3 linked regions of the Homo sapiens genome follow. The protein of the gene in region 1 purifies or fractionates together with the protein of each later gene. This does not show direct contact. Each region holds a gene or a part of one and is shown in the gene's direction. Other genes may lie near its edges.

What was found.
Region 2: the proteins of CTTNBP2 (region 1) and PDCD10 purify together in Homo sapiens (affinity purification with mass spectrometry; one large-scale study listed by BioGRID and IntAct). This does not show direct contact.
Region 3: the proteins of CTTNBP2 (region 1) and STRIP2 purify together in Homo sapiens (affinity purification with mass spectrometry; one large-scale study listed by BioGRID and IntAct). This does not show direct contact.

What each region holds. Positions count from the first base shown.
Region 1 is NC_000007.14:117,712,674-117,717,313, reverse strand, and holds part of CTTNBP2 (cortactin-binding protein 2), read left to right. Parts: exon of another isoform or gene 1-1,431; intron 1,432-4,640. UniProt on the Homo sapiens protein: Regulates the dendritic spine distribution of CTTN/cortactin in hippocampal neurons, and thus controls dendritic spinogenesis and dendritic spine maintenance.
Region 2 is NC_000003.12:167,724,191-167,729,185, reverse strand, and holds part of PDCD10 (programmed cell death protein 10), read left to right. Parts: intron 1-3,712; exon of another isoform or gene 3,713-3,785; intron 3,786-4,995. UniProt on the Homo sapiens protein: Promotes cell proliferation. Modulates apoptotic pathways. Increases mitogen-activated protein kinase activity and STK26 activity. Important for cell migration, and for normal structure and assembly of the Golgi complex.
Region 3 is NC_000007.14:129,454,139-129,459,133, forward strand, and holds part of STRIP2 (striatin-interacting protein 2), read left to right. Parts: intron 1-3; coding exon 4-72; intron 73-282; coding exon 283-389; intron 390-1,105; coding exon 1,106-1,233; intron 1,234-2,300; coding exon 2,301-2,504; intron 2,505-2,561; exon of another isoform or gene 2,562-2,874; intron 2,875-3,684; exon of another isoform or gene 3,685-3,944; coding exon of another isoform or gene 3,945-4,076; coding exon 4,077-4,312; intron 4,313-4,573; coding exon 4,574-4,639; intron 4,640-4,995. UniProt on the Homo sapiens protein: Plays a role in the regulation of cell morphology and cytoskeletal organization. Required in the control of cell shape. Calmodulin-binding scaffolding protein which is the center of the striatin-interacting phosphatase and kinase (STRIPAK) complexes.

The sequences.
Region 1 (4,640 bases):
TTATTTCATCCTGACTTTCCATAACATGCATTACATTTCAATGAGACTTTAAAAATAAGTCTGAATGGCAACTAGAAGAACCAGGATTCCAGTAGACTTCCTTAACCTTTTGAAATAGCTTCCATGACTACAGCACTGCACCATTATCAGTTGGTTAATAAATGGCAAGAGCTGGCACAGCATGGTATTCCTGGGTGAGCAGAAACAATGAGAAATGTCTCACTCATTAGTTGTGAGGATGCAGACTTCACAGAAGCACTTTGTAATATATGGTTTGTTCACCAAACCATGTTGATTGATTGTAAGCCACCTTGGGAGTAGATGAGAACGGCAAAGACCTGTGTGTGGGTGGGAAGGTGGGGCGCAGAGAGCAGGATTATAAAGTAAGCATGGTGAGACTATTAAGTTATTAAGCTTTATCTGATCACCTAGCGGCACTGGGCCCCACAGCCCCGCTCCCTCACTGCTTCATTAAGTTTTGATCCTGGCTATTACATGTGGAACTATGTGAGCTGCATGCATTGGGAGAGCAGGTATGGGAGTGGGAATTTACACGGCTGGGGGCTCTAATACAAAATATTTAACATGATGTCCTGTGAAGAAAAGCATGGCTTTCAAGCTCACTCTATCATAATGTCTGCCTTTTTTTGTTCAACTGGGAACAATTTAGAAGCCCAGCAAAATTTGGAGGATGACCTAAGAAGGTGACCTGGAGTCAGCACTGAGCCTTCTGGTTGGAAAACAGTCTAGGGCCCATCCCTTTGCTATCTTTAAAGCCTCAACTCACTCCCCCTGTATTTATTGGCTTGCTCTGAGCTGTGCTTGACTGGACGCCAGTCTCTAGGACCCAAGAATTTAGGATTCCTTGTGGAACATCGTCAGTGGAAGGGGCCAGGAGGATCTTAGCAAGAGGAACAGTGAACCACCTTCCCCATAAGCCCAAATCACTTTCTTGTGTAAAAATAGAGAATGGCTGCTGCTTAAATGTCTAATAAAGAAACAAACATTGTCATACCCCTATTTCTCTGTCACATGACCATATTGAGTTGCTACAATAAGGTACTGTCCACAAAAAAAAAGTAGTACTGAAAGTCAAAGTTCTGGGCAGCTTTGTTTAAGATATTTTTTAAAGCGAGTCCTTTTATACTATCTGGGCTCTTATACAAAGAAAAAAAAACTATGTTATTGTTTAAATGTGCAATTTGATGTGGGAATTAGGACCGCTGCCTCCTAGTCTTCTCTCCCTTTGCCCACTGAAGACACTTATTTGGAGGGACTCTTCCCCAAGAGCTAGATGATGTTTTTCTCAGAAAGTGCCAGCAGAGGGCAAAGTGGTACTTACTGTTGGCAGCCTTCTGAAACCTTGACTGGCTGATGCCTTTTCTCTTCTCCTACTCAGCTGGTATTTCTGGGTTAGATGCCCAGTTTCTTCTGTTATCAGGAAGTATCTCCATTTAGAGGTAAGAGTTTCCTGGGTTAGTTGAAATCACTTTCTCCTTCATGGCCAGAAGGCTGGCAATGCCTCCATTGAAGAGGGGCCCTGCAACCATCATTATCTGTTGGAAAACAAAAATGAGTAAGTTATCTTTATTATTTGCAACAATATAACTCCTCACTGCTCTAACAGTAAGGGAGAGTAATTGGGTTTACTAATCAAGTGGCATTTAGCAGGCCTTCTGAATTAAAAACAAATATACATATTTAAATCAACAGGAAGAACAAATGTTAATAAATGTTTTCCTTTTATGTAAATCCAAACTAATCCTCTGAAAGGACAAGTTCACATCTTTGGTTGCATGATGAAATCCACTTGAGGCTTCTTTTTTTTTTTTTTTTTTAACTTCAGGGCCTGGACTCTAGTCTGAGGGGAAGCCTGGACAATGGGTTTTTTAAAGGTCCCTGGTGATTCTTACATGCATCCAGGGTTGAGACCCACTGTTCTAAAACATAGCCCTGATCTGTCATCTTCATTTTCCACCCATTTCTTTCTTTCCAAATATATCTTTAGAGGGATTGAGATGCCTTCATGTAGCTTTTCACATGTTCCTTTTTTACATGTAATTTACTACTTCCCTCTGTACTCCTCCCCATAGAACCTTCTCTCGTCACAGTCCTGTGCCTCTTTAAAGACTCACCCCCAATGCCACCTTCCCTACATGTTGTTCTTTTCCTCCTGCCCCTAACTTTCCCATCTAGAGGAATTACAATATCTTCTTAGCTTCTAGTAGATGCTGTGTATTGAATGAATTGCTCTGATTTACCAATTCTTTAAGGCTAAATAAAACTTACTTTAGGTCAGTGCCTTTCTACACAAATTAGTTTTTGAGTTTAACATGCACAGCAATATGGATAGTAAACGTTATACATTTAATACAGATAATTCGGGGGTTTTAGCCCAGGAAGCATTAAACACCTGTAACTCTCCTGCTCCTAAACTCCGCTGCCCCCTAGGCTTGACTTCCAGGGTGTCAGGAGCACTTTTCAGGCAGGATGCTGTGCATTGGTCACCTGCTCTATTCTTGCACTCCTGGCCTTGAATTGCTGTGGCTCACGCTAAGCCCAAGTGATTCTCCATGTTCTCATCCTAACTCCTTCCATTCTAGCCTCACACTTCCAGGGACTGACCAAACTACATGTTTTTAGTTGTTCTGGGTACTTCTCAGTACTTTATTTCATGTGGATATTTCCTGCCTCAGACCATGAAGGTACACTCCCCTCACCATCATGTTGCAGGTACAGAAACAGACTAGAACAGTGTATGTCTCCTTTCCTTCCTCTGGGCCATGGCATTAATTAACTCTGTAGATTTGACAATAATGGCAAAATTAAACAACTCCCCTCACCACCAGATTCTGTATAGCAACTAACTGTTATCCTTATTATAATGCCATATTTCATGTTTTCTGAATACTACGTATGTGTTGCATTTGCTGGTGTTTTAAACCAAATTACAAGTTCTAATTGGCCTTAGTAGGCCCATGACCAAGTCCCATTTTGCGGACTTAACAGTAATTTCTTGTTAGGAAAAATGAGATTGGATCCTGGTACCTGCACTGTTTTTACAGTTGTGACTATCACCATCCAACTCATGACAAGCAATGTAACTTCTCATTTTCTTTCTGGTAACTTGACAGCATAAGCATCTTTACAAAACAAAAGCAGAACATACTAAGCAGATTCGCCCTTAACATACCATCAAGTACACATGGAGGTGACGAGGATGGACTAGGATGTGTTCCCTCACCAGATGTAGCTCAGCCTTTTTCCAGGCTTCCTCGGACGTAGTTAAAACCGAGCCCATCTGTTTTTTGTTTTATCAGGAAGCTCTTGCCTTTCTAAGCTAGCTTCTTGCAGTCTAGACTTCTCTTTCCTTTCCCTGTAAATGCAGGTGGCCTGGACCCCAGATTTGTCCCCTCTTTATTCTCCATTACATATTTGTTGTTTCAGTGTTTTTATATTTTCCCAAACCACTAGCCAAGTATATATTAGAGTTACATTGCTGTTCCACTTAAGATTAGCTGAGTCTGAAAATCTGACCCCAAGAGATTTCACTTTGGTGATTTAGGGGTAGTTTAATGAACATGTTGTGTTGGGCTTTAAAGAATTAGGACTTTAACAGGGAAGTAAAGGAAAAATAGGATTTAAAGGGGATTGGAGCCAAACTTTAAAAGAACTTTAGTGACATGCCAGTTAGTGAGGACTTATCCTTTACCTTCCTATTCACACAAACACAGCCATAATTCTCTGCCCATTTTGTGGGTAACATTGGATTAGGTTGGTGAGGAGAGAGAGAAAGGCAGCTGCTAAAGATAACTGAGGATTTCCTGCTAAATTCACTGGGAGAGCAGCATTAGCCAGTAATGAGCCAAGCGGAAAGGCTTTAGAAATTAGTATTGAAGAAATGCAATAAATACAGTTTTAGAAAGAATTTGAAGTGTGGCTAGACATATAGGTGAATTAGTGGGGTGGAAATGCAGGAGATAAATGAGGGCTAAAGAAAGAACTTTGGGAAATACTTAGAGCTTGAAATACTCTGAAGGGAAAGATTATCAATGTGTGACTTATAGAGGGCTAAGAAAAATGCTACCATTTAGGACAGCAGTCCCCAGCCATTTTGGCACTGGAGACTGGTTTCGTGGAAGACAATTTTTCCACGGACCTGGGTAGTTTCCGGATGAAACTGTTCCATCTCAGATCTTTAGGCATTAGATTCTCGCAAGGACTGGGCAACCTAGACCCCTCACTTGCACAATTCACAAGAGGGTTTGTACTACTATGAGAATCTAATGCTGCTGATCTGACAGGAGGCGGAGCTCAGGTGGTAATACTGGCTCGCCCCCGCTCACGTCCTGCTGTGCTGCCCAGTTATTAATAGGCCATGGACTGGTCCACAGCCTGTGGCTTGGGGACCCTTGATTTAATTGCTCAATGGAGAAAAAGGATAGTGAGGAGTTAAGCTAGGCGTTCTTTGGCCGCAAGATTTTTTAAAATCGTATGTCCATGCCACACCCCAGAACTATTAAATATGAATCTCTGGTAATAGGGCCCAGCCAATGACTATTAAAGCTCCCCCAGGTGATTCCAATGTCATATAAGACGATACCCAGGAGAATGCAACTGCCGCAACTGCCAGATGAAGC
Region 2 (4,995 bases), on another chromosome or scaffold:
TATTGAAAAAAGAAATATGTATATTATAATACAAGAGTCACAATCAGTGTGGCAAGCTACTCTTTGTGAGAGCTCACTGTGGCTCTCAGTCTGGTGTGGGGAGTGGCAGATCCACGTTTCTTATCTGTCTCATTCTGGGACTTTTGCATAGGGAATGGAATTATCACATACTGCAGTAGTTATTTTTAGTGAAGTTATTTTTTTGTTTGTTTTCTTCAAACAAATGTTCACCATGTCTGTTGAACTTGCATAGGGTAGGAGTATCATGTGAAGCAGGTACGCTCCCTGGAGTGTTAATGCCAAGTGGCAGTGTGACATGTCACTGTATTTCTTTACTGTCTCTCTTCCCTGCCAAGACTACATACCTTCAAGGGTATGTGCTGTTTGACTTTTCATCACCATATCTCCAACTAACACTGTTGCTGACTTAGACTGACTATGCAGAATACTGTGTTGGATACTAGGAAATAGAGAAATGGATACAACTTCTCTTTAGGGAGTTTATACTTCAGTAGATACAAGGGGAAAGGGTTGAAAGACCATTGTATGGACATTTAGTCTTTCTAATATACTAAGTACTTCCATGTGCATCAGTTCATTTTACAATTTTAGGTTAGAGCTGATAGAAAAATAAATGATTGTTTCTCTAACTGCCATCTGGTCCCTGGCACTGAAATGGGTCTCCCTGTCTTATTCAGTCATTCTCTCTTACTTCAAGATAGACTGGAATTCAACTGAGATTGAAGTTATGGAATGACAAAACCCTAAGATGTTACACACCGGCTGCCTCCTCAGACTTATATAAGGTTACTACAACAGAAGCCAGTTGGGAATGTTAAATGAGTCAGACCTGGCCTCTAGACAGCAACTGCACCCTATACGAGTTTAGATTGTTGCTAGGCTTTTTTTCATTTAATTCCAAAGCATTTGGAATCCTTTTTTTTTTTTTATTGAGAACTGCACATCTTTCTCTATGTCTTTATCCATATTAAAATCGGTATTTATGCAGTACTGTCAAAATTTGAGAGATTTCCAAGGTTCTACCTTATTTTTGGTATGCTCCCTTAAAAAATAAATCACACTTTTGCGAAGTGAAGGTTACAGGAGGAACAGTAGATGCAGTAAAAACAGATACTATCCTAGCCCTAATTTCTTCTTGTAAGAAATAGTATTTGTATTTGAGATCAATTGGGAGCTAAAGGTAAAGTTAAATGTCATCATCAAGATAGAACCTTGGCCTCATTAGCACCTAATGTTAAATAAGGCAGAGGCTATTTATTGTCTGGGGCTAATAGTTTCTGTCAACATTTGAGTGCCCTGTGGCAGTGTTTTTGGTGCAAAGAAATTGTGTAAAGTAATGAAAGTACCTGTTGCATGTTTTAGAGGATCTTAAGCCATTAGGAGTCATTAAGTTAAATTCTAGGTATCTAAGATTATAAGTGATACAAAGCAAGTAGCTCTGATCCAGGGTGGTACAGATTCTTTTAATTGTACCTTTAAGCAGAGAGGACCTAACACTCTGAGGAATTAAGTTTAGTTGAATTTCTAAGGGATTTTAAAGGAAAGCTTTAATTAACATCGTATTGGAGAAACTAAGACAAGGAATAATACTAATAAAAAGGAAAATAGACATGTACCTCAATTAAACACCAAACAACTATTCAACTAGGCATTATTCATGAACCATTAGGTTGAGAACTTTATGGGCAAAAGATGAACATATTCAAGGGGACAGATTTGTTTCCTGTCTTCCAACAAGTGTTTTCATTTAAATTTTACTCAGATCAGAATTTACCAAAAATTTAGACATAGGAAAAAAAAATGAGGATTGTCACAACTAAAGAGATGTATGTTTTTCCCCCTGAACAAGTTGCTTTGAAATATCGTAGGAGCCAATTGTTACTATTTTGTTACTGTTTCCATTTCCCATCAGCTAATTCTGAGGTAATGAGCTCTTTAATTTTGTTGTCAACTTTTGATTATCTTGTACAGATTATAAACCTTTTATGAATTATCTCAAGGGCTTTGATCACATCTTGATTTCAGTGTGCAACCCAGCCTGCTACCCAGCCTGCTTCTGGGCCATGGTTTCCTTTGTTAAGTTTATCTATGTACATTTAGAAAAGTAATTTTAACATTGGTTTGGCAAAAAGTTTTAAAATGCACCTGATGGCCAAATTCTTTTATGTAAGCCAAAACTAAGTGTATTTATGCATCCATTTTGGCAAATGGGAGATAAAAGGTTTTGAAAATATGCTATGTAGGTGGCCTTTATGACATTGTGATATCAGTGTTTGACTCTCATTGTGTATGTTATGCAGGGGCAGGACTAGGGTGAGGCAAGAGATATGCCTAGGGTACAAACTTTGAAGAAGCACTAACTCTCTCAGTCATGCAAATCAGAGCAAAATTTTGTGTTCTAGGCATCTGGTTTGCCTCACCCTAGTTGCAATCGATTCCATGTCAGGTTCCTAGAATTTTGGCTAAAATATTAATAACAATATGAATAGAATGGTTATTATGTGTTAGCCACTGTAGTAACTATTTTATATGCAGTTAGTACTCTTAATCTGGGGAAGTGAGTACTTCAGTATTTCTGTTTCTCACTAGTTTAGAAATAGAGATTTACAAAACTGAAATGATAGCATCCAGCTGAGCAAAAATTCAAACTGAGGTTTTTTTCCTTCCAAACTGAGCACTATCTCCTGCTGTATACTGTCTATCTATGTGTAGAAAAAGTTACTTCTTACCCATTTTATAAATTTCTGTATTAAGAAACAGTACTCTGGCCAGGCACAGTGGCTCACGCCTGTAATCCCAGCACTTTGGGAGGCTGAGGCGGGTGGATCACCTGAGGTCAGGAGTTTGAAACCAAACTGACCAACATGGTGAAACCCCCATCTCTACTAAAAATACAAAATAGCCAGGCGTGGTGGCAGGTGCCTATAATCCCAGTACTCGAGAGGCTGAGGAAGGGGAATCGCTTGAACCTGGGTGGAGGTACGCCACTGCACCCCAGCCTGGGTGACAGAGTGAAACTCTGTCTCAAAAAAAAAAAAAAAAAAAAAAAACAGTACTCTACAAAATATGTAAGTGCATACACTTGACATGGTGCAGTTAACTTTTAAGATGAGCTGGAAGTCTCAGCAGCACCAAGTTGAAGATCCACAAGCTTGTGCTGCTAAGTACCCTAGAGTTGTCAGACATATTAAAGAAGAAACCAAAGGATAGAGAGGTGAAATGACTTGTTCAGAGACAAAGATAGTTTATGAATGACAGGACCAGAATTTGAGCCCATGCTTTGAGACTTTAAATGCTTATGCTTTTTCCCTGTATCTTTCTGCACAAATTGTCCATTTAATATTTTTAAAGCATATATATATATATATATATATATATATATATATATATATATATATATAAACGATACAATGGTAAAGTGCTATATACACTTACCATTAACAAGAGATTGCTTCTAGATGTCCCTAAGTGTAAAATTCTGTAAGTACTAAACTGACAGTAGTGTATGTTCAGGGAGGTTAGGTTCCACTTAACTTTATTAAGAAAACTGGAAATGGAAGACATTGAATTATAGAAGATGTAATTTGCAAGTCAAGGAGAGAGATGTAGGTATATCCTTAAGACATCAAGCTCATTTTACTCTAAGTAGGATCACTGACTTACCCTATTCCTCTGCCTCCCTTTTTCCTAGCTTTCTCCTCTAAATCTTGGTCTCTTGTTTGGAAGTGACTAACAGCATTTTGGCATGAGAAAGCCCTAAAAAGGTACGTAAACTGTGTCAGCAAATGTTAACCCCACCCCGCTTTGTTAAATGGCCAGACTACCATCTATACAGTCTTTGTAAAAATCCATTTTCTCTAAGAGTTTGATGAGTGATTTTTTTTTTTTTTTTTTTTTTTTTCTTTTTTGAGACAGAGTCTCGCTCTGTTGCCCAGGCTGGAGTGCAGTGGCACGATCTCGACTCACTGCAACTTCCGCCTTCCAGGTCCAAGCAATTCCCTTGCCTCAGCCTCCTGAGTAGCTGGGACTACAGAAGCCCACCACCGCATCTGGCTAGTTTATGTATTTTTAGTAGAGATGGGGTTTCACCATATTAGCCAGGCTGGTCTTGAACTCCTGACCTCAAGTGATCCACCTGCCTTGGCCTCCCAAAGTGCTGGGATTACAGGCATGAGCCACCGTGCCCAGCTGATGAGTATGATTCTCTGTGTTATATTATTGAGAGAAAGCAAGGAATTGTCAGTTAATTGAAATCCTGGGTTAACCAACTCTTGGGGAGGACCTCCTTAATTAGAATTTGTAAATAATTTTTAATGATTTGATGCTTAAAGAAAAATTTGTCTTAAAGAAATTCCTATTAGATTACTTTGGAAAGTATAGCTGATAACAATAATGAAGTCTTATTATCACTGAATTTTGGTTCCAGTGATAATGTGGCTGGGTCCAGGCTTTGTTAATAGAATTAATTTGATTTTTGTGTTTGTTTTTATTTTGCTAGGCATGCTATTTGAAAAGTATATTAGCAAGACTGATTCAATTTATAAATTGCCCATCTCAACTCATGAATTTGGTCATTCAGCAAACATTAAGTGTCTGTTATGTGCCCGCTATGCTGACTGTAATGTCTCTATTGGGAAGAAGAAACACACTTATAAATGGGAACATAAACACAGGATTCTGCTCACTGCTAGAATGAACACACTTCTCTTAACTGAATGTTCATGCACATTTGTTGGAGATCCAGCATACATCAGTCAGTCAATCAATCTTTCCCTTTTTAGAGAGAGAAATTATAGGAATTATAAGAATTTAGGGCCAAGAGGGCTGAGTACTGGATTTTACTAGAGAGAAAAGCAAGACAAAAAGACCTGCCTGCCTACAAACGTTTTAAGTGTAGAATTACTTAAAAAGCTGTTTTTCTAACTGAGAAGTGCCTATACCAGTACCAAGAGCTTCTGTTGTTCCTCTCCTTTC
Region 3 (4,995 bases), about 12 Mb from region 1:
CAGCAACAGCCAGGCCTGTAGCAGTGCCCTTCGGAAACCAGCTGTCTCCATAGCTGATAGCACAGAGCTCAGGTGAGTGGGGCTAACTATGGGCTTGGAACAGGGCAGATGATTAGCACCTGGGTTACCTTTTCCCCAAATCCCAGATGACTCAGACCATTAGGAAGTTGCCCTGTAGCTAATCTCACTGGGTTGGGCTTCCCACAGAGACCATCTCTGAGGTCTGTGACTATGGGCTGGGAATTGCCTTGGGAACCTCTTGTGACTCTTCTGTAACCCCAGGGTGCTGCTGAGTGTTATGTACCTAATGGTGGAAAATATTCGCCTGGAGCGAGAGACAGACCCCTGTGGGTGGAGAACAGCCCGGGAGACCTTCCGCACTGAATTAAGTAAGAAATGGCACTTGAGGAAGGTGTGGATGGGGTGCTAATGGGAGAGGGGAAGCAGAGCATCTGCCTAGGAGAGGCAGACAGTCGTTTTTTCTTTTGTTTTCTTTTTTAAAATTAATGTCCTTTCTTTTAGGACACAGATACTGCATGGCAGGCACAAGGGCTGGGCTTGATTGCCGCCCTGTATCTATGAGCTAAGACCAGCCATGTAACTTCTCTATGCCTTGGTTTCCTTGGTTATAAGTGGGGATAGCCATTCCTCTCCCACTCTATCACGAGTCCCACATGAAAAAATGAGTTGAATCACCTTGAAAACTGAGTTCTGTTCAAATGTAAGTTGGTGTTGTCATCTGACAGGGATAGGATATGAAGGACTATGGGATTTTAAAAATATATTTATTGATGTGGAAAAGTGAATGACATTGAGTCCTTTAGCCAGAAAGCAATGTCTTCATTATTGTTACTTCTAGTTTGGCATCCAACCCCAAAGCGTCACCCTAAGCTCTGGGGCCTATGCCATTTTAATTCCATGGCGTCCCTTCCTGCCCTTGAGGGGCTTCCTTCTGGGGGCTAAGCCTCCTTCTCAGGACCAAGTACTCTGGTATTCTTCAGGGGAGGTGAGTGCCTTCCTGTGTGTGTCCAGAATCAGGGTTACATGAAAAAGGTTTTAGCTGCCTCATCCTCACTTTCTCACTCCCCTCTCTCCTCACCCCTAGGCTTCTCCATGCATAATGAGGAGCCTTTTGCCCTTTTACTCTTCTCCATGGTTACCAAGTTCTGCAGTGGCCTGGCTCCTCACTTCCCCATAAAGAAGGTCCTGCTCCTGCTCTGGAAGGTGGTCATGGTGAGTAATTCTCCCCACTCCCACATTATCAGATCAGCAATGCCCTATGCCACCTCAGTTTCTTCTAGTCTCATTCCAGGAGGCTGGATCCAGGGAGCAGAACAGGCAGCCCTTAGCCAACTGCTAATATGGAGGGGCAACAAGGCTGTCCTAGAGACATCAGATGTTCTATGTTAGAATGGGTTTCATGTTTCTATTGGATGGATGGGAGATGCCACTCCATAAATTGGGGATGTCAGTGGTACCTTCTCTTATTAAAGCCAATGTTTGATGGAGAGAACACTGGTTGAAAGTTGGTAGATCTGGGCTTTGCTGATACTGAGAAACTTTGGGCAACTCTCTGTGCCTCAATTTCTCTAGCTGTAAAAGGTTGGGGTGAGTGCCTGCCCTCCCTCCAGATAAACAGAGGTTTTGTATTTTTTTTTTAATAAAAATAATTTTTTCTTACAGACAGGCCTCCCTGTGTTGCCTGGGCTGGTCTTGAACTCCTGGTCTCAAGCAATCCTTTCACCTTGGCTTCCCAAAATGTTGGGATTACAGGCATGAGCCATTGTGCCTGGCCAGGATTTGCTTTTTAAAAAATAATGAAGTTCTTATAAATATGTGGTTACATTTCTGTTACTAGTTATTCAACCTGATCCTTCATTTTTGGCTCCCATCTCACAAGGCAGGCCTAATAGGGGGAACTGCCTCTTGACTGCAGAGGAAATTGAGTGACTCTGGGGGTTTATAGCACCTGGATGGTGTTCCTTAAAAAAGTCGATAGTTTCTTTTTTTTCTTTTTTTTTTTTTTTGAGGAGGCCCGCAGGAATTCCTTTCCTAAATTCTGTGATATTTCCCATACTGGGGCAGTAAATAATGCCTTATCCTGACCCCTGAGCTCCTCAGTTGCCGTGGGGATGGTAATCATATTTGCCTCTTTATGTTTTACTACCTCCTTATTAAGGAAAAGGTCTGAAGGGACTGGAGGTTGTGGCCCTTTCTTTTCATCCATGTTTCCCTGACCTTGGCTCTCTCTTACTTCCCTTCCTTCCTCTCTCTCTGCCCCTTTCCTGTTTCTTCCTTAGTTTACCCTCGGTGGATTTGAGCATCTGCAGACTCTCAAAGTACAGAAGCGGGCAGAATTGGGCCTGCCTCCACTGGCTGAAGACAGTATCCAGGTGGTGAAGAGCATGCGTGCTGCCTCCCCGCCCTCTTACACTCTTGACCTGGGAGAGTCTCAGCTGGCACCCCCACCCTCCAAGCTGCGAGGCCGCCGTGGCTCTCGAAGGGTATGGACTGAAGCAGACAATGGTATTGGGACACCGACTGGCCAAAAATCAAGATTCTAAGTTACTCTGGGTGTGGTAGGAAAAAGCAGTAAATGACCCGGCTCATCCTGCCCAGGTTGGCCCTATGACCAACCTGAAATCTTAGGGTCTCTAGTTTGGCCTCTGTCCCCCAGCCCTGACAGCCCCCTGCGCTGTTGTGATGTGACACTGTGATATCATGTCATATATAGCCATGTCTTGCTACAGAATCATTGGCCTGGACCTCAGTGCCTGGAGTTCCTTACATTCTGAATAACAATTAAGGGTATAATCCTGGGGATAGGGACCCAGGATACCGGAACAGGTCTCCAAGCAAATCCATTTTTCTGGGGTAAGGCATTTTACTATTTTGAAGCACCAGGAAGTTTTACTGTCAGCCAGCCACACTCTTAACTGGCCCTGGAACCAAAGGCTTACATTTAAGAGATGACTGGGTAGGGGTCTATGTATATAACCATGTGACACTAAACGACAGGGATACAATCTGAAAAATGTGTCATTATGCAATTTTGTCACTGAGCAAACATCATAGAGTGTACTTACACAAACCCAGATGGTATAGCCTACTGCACACCTAGGCATATAGCCTATTGTTCCTAGACTACAAACCTGTACAGCAGGTTACTATACCGAACACCATATGCAATTGTAACCCAATGGTGTTTGTGTATCTCAACCTAGAAAAGGCCAATAAAAATACAGTATTATAATCTTATGGGTCCACAATTACATATGCAGTCCATTGTTGACTGAAGCATCGTTGTGCAGCACATGACTATAGTCTGCTGTCCTGAAAAGGTCAGAATGAAAAGTTATACTGAGATCTGACTATGTTCTTACAAACTCCCCTGCCTGACCCACTTCAGTTTATCAACAGGGCTAGATAGTAGTGCTCAGTAATCCAGTCTCCATTATCTGCAATAAAATTTTTTAACTTTATTTTTGTTTTATAAAGTAATGCTTACTCATTGTAGAAAATTTGGAACAAATATAAAAATGTGATGAAGGGAGAAAAGAAAAATCACCCACAATCTTAACAACCAGAGACAGTCACTGTTAACTTTTTGGCCTATTTCTGTCCAATCTTTTTTTCTTTGTCACAAGATTTAAAATTCCAAACTTGCTTCCCTCTGCCTAGCAGCAAGCTTCTGTCCTCCTCTTCCTCAGTCAGCCAGCTGGTGTATGCTCACAGAAGGCAAACTAATTGAATGTTCACCTAAGCAGAGCATAATTAGGAAGGAAAGTGCTGGCAAAAAAAGGCATCACTGCTTTCTGAAAGCTAAGTAATTGTGACTTTGGGATTATCTATGCTATGTTCCCTGGCTAATGGCAGGGTTACCTGAGAACTTCTTGTCCTGTTATTGGGCCGGGTGGGGACAGTAGGTTAAGGTGGGGAATTGGATGTTTTCGCAAGGGCTGTGTTCAGATTCCATGTTCCCTGAAATGTGGAGGCCTGTGGATATGGGGTGGCCTCAGACAAGGATGCCCAGAGTGAGATCTCTGCATGCCTACCCTCCCTTCTTTCCCCTCCAGCAACTCCTCACTAAGCAGGACAGCCTGGACATCTACAATGAAAGGGATCTCTTCAAGACTGAGGAGCCCGCCACAGAGGAGGAAGAGGAGTCTGCTGGTGATGGAGAACGAACCTTGGATGGAGAGCTAGACCTGCTAGAGCAGGACCCTCTGGTGCCACCTCCACCCTCACAGGCACCCCTCTCTGCTGAGCGGGTGGCTTTTCCCAAGGGCCTGCCCTGGGCCCCAAAGGTCAGGTAGGTTTGATAGCATCAGGGACCCCTATGCTTCGGGGTTTCAGTCTCCAAAGGCCCAAGATGGGGTAGTCTATGTATTCAAGGCTCGTTAAGTTGGTCTGGCAGTCAGAACTCCTGGGTTTGAAATTCCTTCTGTTGATTGCTGCCTTTTTCCACTGCTCCAGTCCTCTGATTGGAGGGATAGGAGCCCGGAAAGTTTTTCTCTCTCAAAGTTTGCTTTTCTTCCCTTCTCTGGGATTGGTCTTTCCACCATCCTCTCAGACAGAAGGACATTGAGCACTTCTTGGAGATGAGCAGGAACAAGTTCATCGGATTCACCCTGGGGCAGTAAGTGACTGAATGGCTGGAACTGGCTACAGAGTGGTTCCTAGGGGGCCAGAGGAGCAGGTAGCTTGGAATGAGGGATGGTGCCTGGTGGTCATAATGTAACCTAGAGCCCCTAGGCCATGGACAACTCCCAGTGACTACTTTGGGTTCTTTCTATGGATTTCTTTTTTCCTTGAGTTTCTTCCACTTTTCCTCAAAGAACTTTTGTGTTTTTAGCCAACTGTAGGACTTTGAGCAACAAGTCATTTCTCTTTCGGGCTTAATTTTTTCCTGAGGTTGTTGGGTTAGATGGTTTCTGTGGGCCCTTCCTGCTCTAATGGGCTAAAATTCTGTGAACAAGAGACATGGTCAGAACG